Linked DNA regions of Homo sapiens: region 2 is linked to region 1. Evidence: fine-mapped QTL for protein levels in blood plasma. A gene starts in region 1. The other region holds a variant in brackets. All regions are shown on one strand. Distances are from middle to middle.

What was found. PIP is the chance, under the fine-mapping model, that this variant and not a neighbour inherited with it causes the effect. Protein levels are from antibody-based Olink assays in UK Biobank. Linkage for the fine-mapping came from a reference panel and not from the study's own genotypes, which makes the PIPs less certain.
Region 2: its variant is fine-mapped to the plasma level of the GRK5 protein (UK Biobank, PIP above 0.99).

What each region holds. Positions count from the first base shown.
Region 1 is chr10:119,203,279-119,211,610 of GRCh38, reverse strand. It overlaps GRK5 (G protein-coupled receptor kinase 5), which reads right to left and starts at 4,040. Exons shown (of 16, transcript NM_005308.3): 1 at 3,642-4,040. The coding sequence starts at 3,693. It overlaps GRK5-IT1 (GRK5 intronic transcript 1), which reads right to left and starts at 3,190. Exons shown (of 2, transcript NR_186528.1): 1 at 2,961-3,190; 2 at 1-130. RefSeq lists silencers at 3,614-3,663, 3,714-3,783, 3,994-4,823 and enhancers at 5,164-5,273, 5,294-5,343, 5,454-5,533.
Region 2 is chr10:119,246,812-119,255,143 of GRCh38, reverse strand. All of the region lies in intron 1 of GRK5 (G protein-coupled receptor kinase 5), which reads right to left. Among named protein-coding and RNA genes, the nearest start is that of GRK5-IT1, 43 kb to the right of the region's middle. The variant T/C (reference allele first, on the strand shown) is at 4,400.

The DNA.
Region 1 (8,332 bases):
AATGTGATCAATATTCCTTCAGGTATCTTTTTTGATCAGATATGGCTACTGCTGGCCTGTGAAGAAAGGAAAAGCGGGGCCTTGCAAAATTTTTTCTCACCACTGTTCACTCAGAAGAAAGGCAACAGATCTAGAAGATGAGAAAAACACAAAAACCTTTACTGCAACAATAAAACCAAAAAGAAACACACAAAAGGCACTCAGCAAACTCTCCTTCTCATTATTATTTCAACATTAGGTCGCCTGCCAATTTTCTGAGATTCTGAAATGTAAATAAATAGATAGAGTTAGTCTGGGCCTCTTTTTCATGAAATGCTTAATCACTTAGCTCATTCCCATAAATTGCCATGAATTCAGTCTCAACTTCTTTCTTTTTTTCCTTAAGCACTTTTTAGGAGAGCAATCTAAAGTTCCTAAGAGTGATCGAGTTGATGTTTTCTCATGAGACCCAGGACAAATAAACAGGCCCCAAAATACATTTCCGTGGTTCAAAATCTTGAACCCATACCTCTACCTTTTCTTATTTTAAAATAATTATCACAAGTGTTCATGAAGCTTGCTTGCTATATTTTCTAATTACTAACAATCCATCATTTTACTCTAATCCACTTACAGGCTTTCTATTTTATTGCTACATTAATGCTTTCCACTTTATATTATGTCTTATTACGGTAAGACTTTGAAGATACAGTGAATTTAGGAGCCATCTGTCTTTAATGCAAAACAAAAAGAAAAGATAGGTCCCAGTGTTACCCACCAACATGGACAACTACAAATTATTTTACAGCATTTTCAAAGTGTGCCTGTCTTTCTTCAAGGTCTGTTTCTCTATTGTTTGGGACAAATGTGACTTTTACTTGAAAGCCAAATTTTAAATTGCTTACGGTGTATTTTGTTAAGTGAACTAAATTAAATTTCACATTTGCCAATTATATTTCTCATCTGTAACCACTGACAAGAATCTTTAAGAAGTGTTTTTAAACCTTTTAAACAACTCAGATTTTTTTAATATACTGTTTTATATTAGATATTTCACTAAACTGACTGAAGATTTCATTTCTGAATATTTAGATAATATGGTTATTTGGAGAACTACTAAGTTTAGTAAAATAAATTCAAATATATGAGAACTGAGAAGAGAAACATAAATTGCTTTAATTTCTAAAAGTGTCCACACTAATTAGGATATATGGGCTCAAGTCTCTAATAAAGGCCCAGCCAAAAGAAACTGGAAGCACTTAAAATCATGGCTTTCCTCTAGGCATAAGAGAGAAAGAAGGGGAGAGATGCAAATTGTAAATGAGGTTTCCATTAAATGATTAATTTTTCTTGTTCACGTGTCAGTCTCTCCCTGCTTCCGCAGGCCCTCTCCATTTCCAAGGCATCATCAAGAGCTATTTTCTCACCATGAGATGACGACCAAACTCTCACAGCAAAATTGAAAAAGCCTTTAAAAGGAAAAAAAAAAGTGAAAGGCACATTCTTGAGCACTTTCAATCACTGTAATTCTGCCCCAATGGGAGTCGGTCACTCCACACAAGCTTCCAGCCTGCAGCTCTCTTCTCCAAGGCTCTGGGAAAAAAACCCAATTTGTTGGCCTAACGAACAACAATATCAGACAGTAAATTCACGTTGGTGAAAAAATACTGGGGAGAACAATTTGGAGGGGGCGGGTGGAATTGATATCACTTTGCCCACTCTAAGCAAAGCATTATAAAAGAAGCAACCAAATGCTCAGGGAAGAAAAAAAGCATCTATCAGGCAAACAAATATCTACAGCAGCAAATGTCGGGGGCAGATTCCCTGGGCAACAGGAGGAACCAGCGAAACTTGCAAGGCTCCAGTACCATCAGACCCAGTGATTTCCCAAGAAATAATTTCAGAATGGAGCGAGAGTGAAAACTTTCCCAGCCCCCGAATCCTGAGATACACAACCGTGTCCCACCACTAGGTGGCCAGCTGCAAAGGCTGAAAGAGGGGCGGGGGAGGTGGAGGGCTGTTTTCTCTGCTTCCTCCCTTTCAGGACCATTCCCCAACCCAGAGGAGAGCCTACCAGCACCCACCTAGATCCTGTCCACTAAAAATGTCAGGTTAGGAAAAAAAAAAAAAAAAAAAAAAAAAAACCACACACACACACACAGCTCAGGCCTTAGAACCTGAAGTCACCAAGTAACAAGCCTCTCCTAAAAATTTATTCCCACCAAAGCTAAGCAATGGGAGGGAGACTAACCTGAATATTTTAAACTCTGCTGGGGTTTTCAAAGCACTGCCTCCCTTCGGGGCTTCTGAAATAAACCTTCTTGCCCACTGGCTGCTTTAGAGTGACAAGTGACGACGAAAGTAAGACACGAATGCCGGGTTGAGTTGCTGAAACGCTGCCCACGGAAGGCTATGCATCACCTACCCCCACAGTGTGTAGGGAGCCACAAGGTGATGGAACGGGCTGAATAAACACGAATCGTTTTATTGCTGGCCAGAAATTCTTCCCTTCATTCATCAAAGTAGGTGAATGAAAATATTAAGCAGGTAAGACATTTTCATGGGCTGCTCACCGAGTATCCTTCTAAACTCAAGCCCTTACTCAGTCTGCCTTCTACCTTGTATCAAATAAAGCGTTCTCCCGTGAAAGGGAAAAACCTCTTCCCCTTTTATGAAAAAGGTCGCACACTAGAGCTCAAATCTTGACCAGAAAAAAAAAAGGAAAATATGCGACATAAATTCCAGGTATTCCTAAATACATATGTTTACATGGACACAACACAATCATTTCAGGAAGCACCCAAGTTTCTGCCTCCCCCCCCTTTTTTCTGTTTTTCATCAAAAGGAAGAGTCAAAATATGCGTTCTTAGGGTTTGACTCAGGATCTTACACACTCCATTTAGACAATATTTCCTGCCAGCTAAATGCAGGAAATCTAATGATTTGCATAGAAAACGTATCTAAAGCACCAGCACACTTACCTTTCTTTTCTTAACTGAGCCAAAATCTAACAATTTCAGTTATCACACTCCCAGAAAAGAAAAACCTGAAATACTGAATTATTTTCTAGGTGGTCTGTACAGCCATCCTTTGATAATTCTATGAAAAGGCTAATTCCTCAACATCTGACTTTGCCTTTAAAAGGCTTCCTTCCACACGACGGGATTTCCCTAAGAAACATCCCAGCGGATGGTTTCCAGCAATAGTCTATATCAACTCAGCCTGCGCAGGCAAAGACTTGGCTTCTGCTCATTCCACCCCCGCCCCTCGAACACACACACCAGTTCACACAGAACCATCCCGGGCCGACTTGAAACGCTATTTTATGTGCATGTTTGCTCGTCGCTCCCCGAATGAATGCTTTTCCAACTGACCTTTCAACAGCTGCCGAGATGGCACGCTCTGCAGGGCGAGCGCTGGAAACTAGGAGATATGTTAGCATCCAAATCCCTGCAACCTTCTCAGCCCAAGTCCAGATTCTCTGAGCCCCAAGGCAGGAACCCTGAAGGGTCTGCAGAGCCGCTCTCCGAAGTGTCCTGCTCGCGACCCACTCGCCGGCAGCGGGCATCCTGCACGGGCGCAGCCCCAGCCCGCACGCCACCCGACACCCGCACCCTGGCCCGCGGCGGACGCGCCGGGCACGTACCGGCCCTGCCTCTTACCTTCCCTGGCTTTCAGCAAGACCGTGTTGGCCACGATGTTTTCCAGCTCCATTGACAGTCGGCGGTCAGCAACGGAGCCGGCCGGCGGGGCTGTCAGCGCCTGGGGTGCTGCCGCTGCTGCTGCCGCTGCTCGGGCTGCCGCCGCTGCTGCCGGAGCCGGGGGAGCCAGCAGCCCGCCTTGCCTACCGCATTATTCCTGCTCTCAGCCCAAGAGTTTCCCCCTCTGCAAAGAGGAGCCGCCGCCGCCGCCGCCGCCGCCGCCGCTTCTTCCTCCCTCTGTGTCCCCCCTCCCCCCTCCCTCAACACGCTCCCCCCCACCCCCCACCCTCCGCGTGTCTCTGTCACTCCATTCTCCTCCCCTCCGGCTCCCTCGGATGCTTTAATGCCTCGGATGCTTCTGCCTCCCCTCAGTCCCTCCCGGGGGTGTGGTACTAGCAGGCTCGGGCGGCCGCACTGCGCAAGCGCCGGCCCAGGCGCGCCTCCTGCCTCGGTGCTCGCGGCGCGGGGCCTGCTGGGAGCTGGAGTCCTCCCGGCCGCGCGGCGCCGGGGCTGAGCTGGGCTGGCGCGCGGCTGTCGGAGCGAGGACCCGCCCCGGGACGGCACCGAAAGCGAAGGCGGGCACCGCCCGGCCGACAGGCGACTCAAAGGCGGCCCAGCCAAGCCGAAGTCCCCAGCACCCCCCCGCAGGCTCCCGCTTGCCCCCTTCCCGCCCCGTCGCCAGCCCGGAAAGCGGAGTGCACGGGCCCCGGTGACGGCGCGTGAAGCGCCGCGGCCCGGCAGGAGCCAGTGCGGGTCCCGAGCCGTGCTCGGAGTGGGAGGGCTGCCAGCTCGGCCGCGCGCCACAGCCCGCTTCCTCCGGTCCGCGCCAGGCCCGCGAGGGTCTGAGTCCCGGGTCAGTGACGCGCGCCCAGGGTCCCCGCACGCGGCGGCGGCCGGCCCGGCCTGGCCCCTGCCCAGCGTCTCCCACGCGGCGCCTCGGGCCGCGGACAAAGATGCACTTTGTTTCCTCGGAGGGCGCGAAGGGCTCTGCGGGTCGGCTGCGACCCGGCGCTGGCTGCCCGCGCTGCTCTCGGTGCGACCCGAGCGCCCCCCGCCGGCCGCGGTGCGCGGCGCGGGGTCTACGCGGACGGCGCCTGGGGCTCAGGGTCCAGCGTGGGAAGCTGCTTATTCTGTGAATAAACTGCCTTCCAGCACACCCGGCCAGCAAATCCACGAGCCTCCCTGCAGCCAAACCCAGCCAGATTAAGTAATAAAAACGCAGACGGAGTCGCCGGAGTCTCCGCCGTGGGGAGCGTTAATGAGTAACAGCCAGGCCAGCGCCAAGCCGGCGTGGGATTAACGTTTTTAAATTCCGGTCTTATTTATTTTGGGGCTCTTAGCTCCTTCCAGTGTTATGCTCAGAACATCAGACTCCAGGTCTGTGCTCAGCCCCGTTTCCTTGCTCCCTCCGCTCCGAAGGCCCCACTCCTGGAAATGGGCTGTCTTCGGTCACCCGGGATCTGCCACGAGTGTCCTACAGCTGGGGGCGGGGCAGGCAGGCCCCAAAGAACAATGAGGCCTTTGCCTCCTCTGCATCCTGCGGGCCGGATATCCGTTCAGAAGCCGACTCTGGGCCTTCTCTGTCCAGAAGGAGGAAACCCTCTGTCCCCAGGGCTGCCAGGAAGTCGCAGGGAGGTGCCGAGAGAAACAGAGAACAGTTATTATGCATTGGAGAATATAAAGAAATCAATAAACCTTCCAGGCCTTGGAAACTGGTCTGGTCACTGATTGTAACAACCCAAGATTACCTGCTTTCCTGGGGGAGTATACCCACCACCACCACTTCCTGGTGTCTAGACTTGGGTCAGTGAGTCTCCCAGGGCCTCATTTATCTTGTCTGCAAAATGGGGGCAACAACAGTTTACCTGTCAGAAGGCGGAGGGCTCAGCGGGTAACTTTTCAGGCACTTACCACTCCAGGAATTACTGTTCTAAGCAATCCAGGCTTGGTCTTTGCTACATATTCACGTGCCTAGAGCCCTAACCTTTAATGAAAGGATCTCTCTCAGACAGCGAGACCCCTAAAGCTGGCAGCTCCTAGAGCCCTCCACCAACCACGCTGGTCACTTGCTGGCAGCATAGGGCCTGATGAAGCCCGAAGTTTGTTTATTCGGCTAACATAAAAAAAAAAAGAAAGAAAATTTTTGAATGCCTTTAGATGGCTTATGCACCTTAACAATTTTCTTGGGCCGGGCGCGGTGGCTTACGCCTGTAATCCCAGCACTTTGGGAGGCCGAGGCGGGAGGATCACGAGGTCAGGAGATCGAGACCATCCTGGCTAACAGTGAAACCCTGTCTCTACTAAAAATACAAAAAAAAAATAGCCGGGCGTGGTGTTGGGCTCCTGTAGTCCCAGCTATTCAGGAGGCTGAGGCAGGAGAATGGCGTGAACCCGGGAGACGGAGGTTGCAATGAGCCGAGATCGCGCCACTGCACTCCAGCCTGGGCGACAGAGCGAGACTCCGAACCAAAAAAAAAAAAAAAAAAAAAAAACAATTTTCTCAAAGGTTGTTTTTGTTTGTTTTTTTGTTTTGTTTTGTTTTGAGACAGTTACTCTGTCACCCAGGCTGGAGTGCAGTGGCCCAATCTCGGCTCACTGCAACCTCGGCCTCCCAGGTTCAAATGATTCTTGTACTTCAGCCTCCCAAGTAGCTGGGATTACAGGTGTGTGCCACCATGACTGGCTAATTTTTGTATTTTGAGTAGAGACGGGGTTTCGCCATAATGGCCAGGCTGGTCTTGAACTCCTGGACTCAAGTGATCCAACCCGCCTCTGCCTCCCAAAGTGCTGGAATTACAGGCATAAGCCACCATGCCTGGCTCAAAGTTTCATGAGCATACAAATCACGGGGGATCTTGTTAAAATGCAGATTGCATTTGGATAGATCTGGGGTGGTTTCTGAGATGTTGCTCTTTCTAACAAACTCCAGGGCTCTGTCGATCCTCGTGGTCAGTAGACCACACTCAGAGTTGAAAAGCTTTCTAGTTTACCGTAACTCCCTATTGTCTTATACCCAGCCCAAGTCACTAGTGATTTTATTTATCTGGCCTGTATAGACATTTAAGTTTTCCATCCTGGGAACCCCTGCCTCTCCCTCTCATTTTACAGATGTGAAACAGACCCAAAGTAAGTGAGTTGGCATGGTCACTCAGCAAGTTAGTGTTAGACTATTTTTTTGTCCACTACAAGCTGTTGCATCCTGCCTACACAAATACATGGTTGTACATCAGGTTTTTGTGCCTCTATGAGGAAATTCAGACACTCCAATGCAAGAATGGAACAATAATGGCTAGCATTTACTCAACACCAACTGTGGGCCAGGCTCTTGTGGTCTTTTAAATGGATTATCTCCTTGAACACAATATCCAGATGAGGTAGGGAACACAGGCCTATTTTATAGATAAAGCACCAGGTTAAGAAAGGTTTTATAGGCCGGGCACGGTGGCTCACGCCTGTAATCCCAACACTTTGGGAGGCCAAGGCAGGCAGATCACCTGAGGTCAGGAGTTCGAGACCAGCCTAACATGGTAAAACCCCGTCTCTACTAAAAATACAAAAATTAGCTGGGTGTAGTGGCAGGTGCCTTGTAATCCCAGCTACTCGGGAGGCTGAGGTAGGAGAATGACTTGAACCCGGGAGCCAGAGGTTGCAGTGAGCCAAGATCATGCCATTGCACTCCAGCCTGGGCAACAGAGTGAGACTTTTTTTTTTTCCTCAAAAAAAAAGAAAGGTTTTATAATTTGTCCAGGGTCACATAAGTAATAAGTAGAAGACCCGGGATTTGAACCTGTCAGCCTGACTCAGAGTTGGTGCACTTAATTTCTGGCTTGCGCAAGCTAGCCAGCACAGCTTGGTAGTAACTGTTCTGTGTGGCTGCCGGGATGAACTTGTATTATAAGAAGGCAAAGCACCCAGTTGACTAAATCATTAAGATTTCAAGGGGTTTTCCATTTTCATCTATAATTCCACCATTATGGCTTTATTCCTTTCAATTAACTGCACTAACAACTCGTGGTCTTCTTGAAAAATGGGTTTGATTCAAGGAAGAGTAGGCTATTAAATATAAATAGCTAAGTAGGGAATCATTGACAGCCAGCTGAGAGCAAGAAGGGAAATCCAAATGGAGGAGTGGGGGTGAGGATGGAGGGATGGGAATATGTCAAAGACAGCCAGCTTCAGACTCCACTCAGGAGCAGCTGAGCCAAAAATGCAAAAGAAGTCAGATGCAGTGGCTCATGCCTACAATCCCAGCACTTTTAGAGGCTAAAGCAAGGGTGCAGGGGATGGGGGGGTGGAGATCGCTTGAGCCCAGGAGTTCGAGACCAACCTAGGCAACATAGCGAGACCCTGTCTCTACGAAATAAACCTAAAAATTAGCCAGGTATGGTGGCACTGAGCTATGATCGCCCCACTGCACTCCAGCTTGGGTAACAGAGTAAGACTGTCTCTAAAAAATAAAAAAGCAAAAGAAACAGGGAACCTTCAAATTCTTCTCTCAGCACCTGTATCTGCCATGAATAAAGCTGCTGGGTCAGAGTTCTTGTAAATAGAAGTCTACTATGCTGGAAAGCCACAAACCTATCGGCCTTCTAAAATATAGATTCCTTTTGCCTGAATAATCAAATTGGCTTTCTGAATAGTCCAGGAACTGG
Region 2 (8,332 bases), 44 kb before region 1:
TGGCTCATCTCCTGGCCTCCTCCCACCTGACGACCTTACCTGCGCATACATACACAGAGCTTCCTGCTCTACTCTGTTTTTCCTTCTTTTTTTTTTTTTTTTTTTGAGACTGAGTCTTGCTCTGTCGCCCAGGCTGGAGTGCAATGGCGCAATCTCGGCTTCCTGGGTTAAAGCAATTCTCCTGCTTAAGCCTCCTGAGTAGCTGGGATTACAGGCACCTGCCAACATGCCCAGCTAACTTTTGCATTTTTAGTAGAGATGGGGTTTCACCACATTGGCCAGGCTGGTCTCGAACTCCTGACCTCAGGTGATCCATCCGTCTCAGCCTCCCAAAGTGCTGAGATTACAGGCGTGAGCCACCGTGCCCGGCCTGTTTTTCCATTTTTTTCTTACAAAATACATCATACATCCCAAGGTCCCTGTTTTGATATGTCTCTGCCTGTGAATCCCACCTCCTCCTGGAGAAATAGTCCAGAGTCATCCACACTCAGATTGCTGGGCTGGGCACCTGACCCAGGCCACAGAGCTGAAATGACATCCTCCGTGCCCCAGCCATCAACTCCCACCCCTTCTCCCTCCCCATACTGGCCAGAAATAAGATAGCCACACCCGCTACAAATCCCATGCACGGTTTCTTGTTCCAAGCTGCCTTTCCCATTAGGCTGTAAGCCCCCTGAGCACAAGGACCAGGTCTGCCTGTTCCCCAGTAAATCCCCAGAGTTGTTGAATGAATAAGAGCAGAGTACAAAAAAAAAAATCTAAAACTTATCACAATACACTGTCTAAAAACTAAAGTAGGGCAGAACAGAACAGACCAAACCCTTCTCTGAGGATCAAGAGACAGGATTTGAGTTCTAGCTGTGCAACCCTGGGAGGGTCATAGGTCCTCTCTGGCCCTCAGTTTCCTCCTCCTTTAAAACAAGCCACTGGGCCAAGATGACCTTTCAGGCCCCCTACAACTCAAGTACTGGATGATTCTGAAAGCATTTTTCAAAGGCGCTTAGAATTACAAGAGTCCCACTTTAGGGGACAGTCACCGGCCCAGCAGGCCTCATGTGTGGCTCATCTTTCCCCGCTGTGGTGTGGTTTGGTTTAAAGGCAAAGTCAGAGGAGACACATCAGCCCTGTTGACTAAAGCGTAATATTTTCCATCAGGTGTCACGGCTTTCTGTACTTTCTCCTTTTCCCCTGGGGAATCTCAAAAAGAGTCCATGTGAACATCTGAAAATAAGTGTGCCTCATGAAAAAGCATGCACGCACACACATGTGTACACACACACACACACACACACACACCCCTGGGGCAAAGAACCACCAGGAACCCAAACACTAAACAACCTCCAGCCCCCCACCCCAGGCAAAGCTCCAGAAGCCGTATCTGGGAGACACTGCATTTTTCTGGAATTGTGTCATCATTCACAACAAAGTTCACTCTCAGGCCTTGCATCCACCCCGGAGCTGGGCTGGGCTGCCCAGAGCCACAGTGAAAAAAGAGCTGGCCACTCACACCATTTTTATGGTGAGCCGTGACCTCCAAACGAGCTGGGTGTGCGCCGGGCTGAAGCCCTGGTTCCAGCCGTGGTGGGGCAGCATCCCGCAAGCATATCACAGCACCCTAAGCTCCAGGGCTTAGACCCAGGCAAGAGGCATGAAAAATAGAGCAGCTACACGGAGGAGCCTAAGCTTCTGATTTAAATATAAAAGGAACGGAGGGCAGGGGTGGTGGGGAGGCTGGCTTGTCCCTCTTCTCCACAGGCCTGGCAGGATCCAGGGGGCTGTGGAGATCACTGAGTTAGGAGAAGACATCAGTGACCTGATGTAATTCCTTTTCTAATGCAATGCTGAACTGGAGATAGTTCACAGATGCTCCAATCTTCCTTGCTTGTCCTTCAAATTTCGGACTCTATCAAGGGCCTCTGTAATCTCAACAGACCCTCAGATGTGAGCTCAAGGGGGCACTGGGTGGTGTAGACACCCTCTGTCAAACCTGTGCTGTCACCACTGAGCCACCAACTCTCCCTCATCAGCAGATTAGTACAGCAGGGTTGAAACCAGCCTTGAGCACTAAGGGGGCGTATCAGGAAAACCAGGGCACTGTCCCCTCTCCAGTGTGGCTAGGGGATCCTCTGTAGTCCACACTGGCCATGACCCTCACCCTTCAGGGTCCATCATTTTCCCTAAGACCACCTGGCCTTTGGAACACTTGGTTTATTGGCCCCAGGGGAGGAGGGTGACTGACCTGATACATCTGGGCAAGTTCCAAAGTTCAAAGTTTCAACCATGGCCTCATCTCTCAATTTGTTCAGGGAAGAAAAATGCTATTTATTGAGGTATCCTCTACGACCCATAAAAATGAGGCAAAAGCCACAGAGTGACCCCAAGCCCTTCACAGACACTTGCCCCCAAATCAGGAACTCAGGACTCAAAGCAAATTTAGGAAGGCCACATTTCCGTCTCTTAACAGCACCATCTTTTTCTACAAATCAGGAGAAAAATAGAAAGGTAGACTGTTCTAGTTGGAAGTCAGCTTTACGAGAAACATGAGGACCAGAAGGAAGACACTATTTGCACAAGATCGTGCTGCTACCCGGGGTAGAACTAAAACCATGCCCAGGTCTCGAGACACCCGGTCCAGTGCCCTTCCCCGCCTCTCCAGCGTAGCCCTCTGCACCCAGCTCAGGGTTCTGGCCCATCCACACGGCCCAGAGAGAGACACTTCTCCCCTACCCCCAGCCCTGGGAAAGGGCTGCACGCTGGCCCCTAGGATCCAGCTGAAAGCCTCTCCTGGCAACTTCACCCTGTCTCTGCCCTTCAGGTTCCAAAAGGAGAAACAAGACAGCTCTCTGCCCGTCGCAGGCCTGGGCTGCCCAGAGGTCACAGCACAGTGATCCATCAACTGTCAACTCCACCAGGACCTGTAGCTGGGGCTGGCAAGCTCACCCCACCCAGATGGTTTCCCTTTGCATGGCTGTCTCCAGGATGGTCCTGCTACTCACACAGCTGCCCCTATCGGCACGAGCACGCCACGCAGGCCAGCAGCAAGAGGGATGGTCAGGGAGAGTGAAGACATATGTCTGACTTAGACTTCAGTCACCTGAGCCAGAATTGTACTTGGCACATCTGTCCAGATGCAGCAATATCTCAAGGCAGGGAGGGTGGGATGAAAAGAAGAAAATCAAGTTCTAATCCTTAGTGGAAGGGCTGAGGATTGGATATGCACAGGGCGGAGAAGCAGCTTGCAAATTCTAGACCACCAAAATCGAGGCGAGTGGTTCTCAACCAGGAGCAATTTTACCCCCAAGAGGACATTTGACAAAGTCTGGAGACATTTTTGGTTGTCATAACTATGAAGCTAAAGGCCACAGATGCTGTTAAACATCATCCAACGCACAGGCCGGCCCCCATGACAAAGAATTATCCAGCCCCAGATGGCAACGGTGTCAAGGTTGACAAACCCTGCTTTAGGTGTGTAGATGCTAGAAGGTTTTTTGTTTTATTTTCTTTCCCCCAGACATCTTTCATCATCGCTTTAGAAGACAGCAAGAAAATAACGTGGGAGTATGACAATTACAACTCCAGATAAATGTTCGCAGCCTGTCAGAATGGAAGCCTGGGCTTCTTCCTCTGTTCCAGTGACTCAGTAACTGAAGCTGCGGAGAGGAAGGCCAAGGCTTCGGGAGACAGCTCCGAGTAAAGACAGGCTTAAGACAAAGTTCTGAGTATGTTCTTGAAAAGCTCAGGCATCACAGAAAGGCATTGGTGATGCCATAAACATCCAGCTTGTGCTGCCTTTGAAATCTGATTGAACAAGAAATACTCTTACAGAGCCTTTTGGTTATAGTCTGCTTTTTGTTTTAACATGGTTTTAATCAGGAAATCATGGCTCTTTGTTCCTTCAGGAAATTCTGTCAAATGGTTCACATTCCTTGTAAAGAACTACTGTCTATGCAAATTAAGATTCAGAGTTTTAAATTCAAACAGTTTGGGAGCAAGCAGCGTTTTGTTGTTGTTTCTTAATGTCAACGTGAGAAAAAAAAAAAGTGAGGGGAGGAAAGAATGCAAATGTTCGTCATTGAAAACACACACAAAACCAGAAACATTTTCCCCTCATGCACAAGGTCAGGAGTCTCTGGGTGAATGAAGCTGCTTCATGTTTTGCAGACGCGCTGATGGAACATGGGAAATACTGTTGCAAAGGCCCTCGATAGGAGAGCGTGGAGATGCCTAGAAATAGACATATCACCCAACAACGGGTTATCTATGAGAACTGCATTGTTCTCAGTGTGACTGGGCAGCACAGGCTATGGCATCGGGATATGAAAAATATAGTAACATACTCTATTACACATCCTCTTTACTCAGAGCAAGAGGAGATAAACACAGGTCATGACTAAGCCAC[T/C]TTCTCCAACGTTCACTTCCAATTTTGTGTGTAGCTCTGATCCAGTCATCAAGGTGCTGACTTAAGGAAAAAGTGTGGATGGAATATGTGGTGTAGGGCCAGGCACAGTGGCTCATGCCTGTAATCCCAGCACTTTGGGAGGCCGAGGCAGTAGGATCATTTGAGTCCAGGAGTTCAAGACCTGGGCAACAAAGTGAGACCTTGACTGTACAAAAAAAAAAAAAAAATTTAAATGAGGCTGTAGGATGCCTGGAGCCTGGGAGATCAAGGTTGTAATAGGTTGTGATGACGCCACTGCACTCCAGCCTGGGTGACAGAGCGAGACCCTGCCTCAAATAAAAGAAAAAGAAAAAGTTAAAGAAAATGACTATCTCTGACGTTGCCTTATCCTTCCTGGAATTAGGGAGAATGGCAAAGAAAGTTGTATGAAGGCCCCCACAACTGAGTTCAAACCCTACATCCACAAGTAGCTTCAGGACCTGGAGCAGGTGATTTAATTTCTCTGAGCCCCTCAGTTTCTTCATCTGTAAAATGAAAATTTACAGGTCAAAGGCTTAACACAGAAGAGACTCTCACTCAACAAACAATGAGCATGTTCTGACTGAAGGCTTTCCAGGGAGATTCACCCCACAGGTCTGGGCACAGCACTCCTAGACTCTGAAGAGCCTCTGTGGAGGTCAGAGGCTCTTTGAGGATTCAGTGTTCTTTTCTAAGCCCTAGTCCCTATCCAGAGTTGCCAAGAATGCGGGAAAGCAGAGACTCCACTGTTGGGAGCATGACTTAGTGGGGCCATTCTGGAAGGCAATTTGTTAAGACCCTTCATCTTTAAGCCCACTGCCAGGTATCTGTGACATCCTTGCACACGTGCACAAAGAGTTATGCACTTACAATAACAATGACACAGTAATAGTAAACTTTTTTGAGCATTTAAAAAGTTCAAAGTCAGCTGGACGCAGTGGCTCACGCCTATAATCCCAGCATTTTGGGAGGCCGAGGTAGGCAGATCACCTGAGGTCAGGAGTTCAAGACCAGCCTGGCCAACATGATGAAACCCCATCTCTACTAAAAATATTTAAAAAATTAGATGGGCATGGTGGAGCGCACCTGTAGTCCCAGCTACTTAGGAGGCTGAGACAAGAGAATTGCTTGAACCTGGGAGATGGAGATTGCAGTGAGCCGAGATCGCGCCATTGCACTCCAGCCTGGGCAACAGAGTGAGACTCCATCTCAAATAAGTAAAATAAAATAAAATAAAATGTTTAAAGTGTTTACACACAATTCATACATATTTGATACATGATATACCTGGTGTGTCACATAATATTTATTTGATATATGTACTAAGTAACTTAGATAAGCCTACAAAGTAGGTATTCTACATATGATATTTATTTGATATATATATTAAGTCACTTCACCCTACAAGGTAGGTATTATTAGTATCTCCTTTTTGTTTTTCGTTTTTTGTTTTTTGAGACGAAGTTTCGCTCTTGTTGCCCAGGCTGGAGCACAATGGCACGATCTCGGCTCACTGCAACCTCCGCTTCCTGGGTTCAAGTTATTCTCCTGTCTCAGCCTCCTGAGTAGCTGGGATTACAGGCACCCGCCACCATGCCCGGCTAATTTTTTTGTATATTTAGTAAAGACGGGGTTTCACCATGTTGACCAGGCTGGTCTTGAACTTCTGACCTCAGGTGATCCACCCACCTCAGCCTCCCAAAATGCTGGGATTACAGGCATGAGCCACCGCGCCCAGCTAGTATCTCCATTTTAAAGAAAAGAAAGTTGAGACATGGAGAGATTAGTAACTTGCCCTAGGTCAGAGGTCGGCAAATGTTTTCTGTAAAAGGCCAGATGGTAAATATTCTAGGTGGGCCATATGGTCTCTGTCACAACTACTCAATTCTGTGGCATGAAAAAAGCCCTAGATAATAGATCCACAAATGAGCATGCTGTTCAACAAAACAAGTTAATGGACACTGAATTTTGAATTTCACACCGTTTTCATATATTAGGAAATACTTACCTTTTTTTTTTAACCATTTAAAAATGAAAAAATCAGTCTTGCCTCACAGGCCCTACAGAAACACAGCGGGGTGGATTTGCCATGGAGGCTATAGCTTGCCACCCCCTGCCCTAGGTCACTCATCTAGTCTAAGTCCTGTTTCAAAGCCAGGCAGTCTAAGCTCCACAAGGCACATTCATAATCTCATGCTATCATTGCTTCATTTAGTATCAAAAAGAAAGGGTGAGGAAATGGCTCAATAAATTAGGAACAGAATTCATATTATGGAACGCCCTGCAGGATTAAAAAAATGTCATCTGCACATGGGCCAGTGTGAAGGAACTCTGGATGTGTAAGTGAAAAAAGCAAGCTGTACATCAACACACACATCATGACCCTCTTTTTATGGATCAAAAATAACGACAACAGCCAGCGATAGTGGCTCACTTCTATAATCCTAGCACTTTGGGAGGCAGAGGCAGGAGGATTGCTTGAGCCCAGGAGTTTGAGACCAGCCTGGGCAACATGGCAAGACCCTTTCTCCACACAAAAATTTAAAAATTGGCTGGGTGTGGTGGTACATGCCTATAGTCCCAGCTCCTTCAGAGGCCAAGGTGGGAGGATTGCTAGAGTCCAGGAGGTTGAGGCTGCAGTGAGCTATGATCACACCAGTGCACTCCAGCCTGAGACCCTGTCTCAAAAGAAATTAAAATAAAAATAAAGCTAATTACGTATTTGTGTGCATATGGATATAAACACTTGTTCACTCACATATAAACAGTCAGCATTTAGAAAGATGTCTGGAAAGATTATCACCAAATGTCAGCAGCCAGGCAGGGTGGGGGGGACTTTCATGATTGTCTGTATATATATGTGCCCCTATAATTTGAAACTTTTACATCCCAAATGCATCCTTCTATTATGTGTATCATAAAAGAAAATGATTGAGGTACTAGTTACAAGTCACCACTTGCCAACACACTTTGAGCTCTCTGAGCAGTTTCCATGTGGCCCCCTCTAAACAAAAGCTGGTTACAATTAATTATGGCAGGACAAAGACATTTTTTCCAGAGGGCAAAACAAACAAACAAACAAAGGTGGCATAAACTATAGTAAATAAACATAGCTGTGTCTCTTTGACCATCACCAGTGATTTTGTTTTAATTGCTATTAAACATGTGCATGACCTAACCTTCTCCAGACACTATTAACCTCCAACCCCAGGATGTCGGTTGTAAACAAAGCCTTCAAGGGTTTCATCTGGTGTGTGATAGTCCAGGCATAGCTTTCCTGACTACATAAACTTTAATTTATAAAGTTATTTTGGTTTGCTCCACTGGCATGAACATAGCTGAAGGGGGAGTCATCGACTGTGGAAATGAGATTTCCCTCAGTGCCAATTTTAAATCCAGCCTCCAGGTCATCGTATTTTTCTGGATGCTTCTCACAGTCACATTTTTTGTTTGTTTGTTTTACATGAAAGAGCACATTCCCTTTCCCCAAGTCAGGTTTACCATTTTCCATTGCTCTTATTAAACGTATCTTATTCTAATGGAATGTTCTCAGAGTTTCCGCCCTCCGCTGGCCTGGGTAAGAGAGGTCTGGAGTTGGACGCCCTAGGACGGACAGTCACTCAGATGCCGAGCTCCAGGCCATTGCCAAGCACCACCTCATCACAACTGCAGAAAGCAACGGGGTACAAAATCCCATCCTCGGGCCAGGGCACGGATCTGACCCCGGCATCCCAGATTCCTTCTCAGATCTGGATAGAACCCAAGAGGCTCTCAGCGAGGCCCTCTGTGCCAGTTAAAACAGCAGCTGGCTGAGGCAGTGTCTGAAGGTGCGGAAATGCAAATCCACGAGGAGACCAGCCCTTCTCAGGTGACATTCCCATCAGAGCTGTGAGGGCCTTCTGTTGACCAAACAGT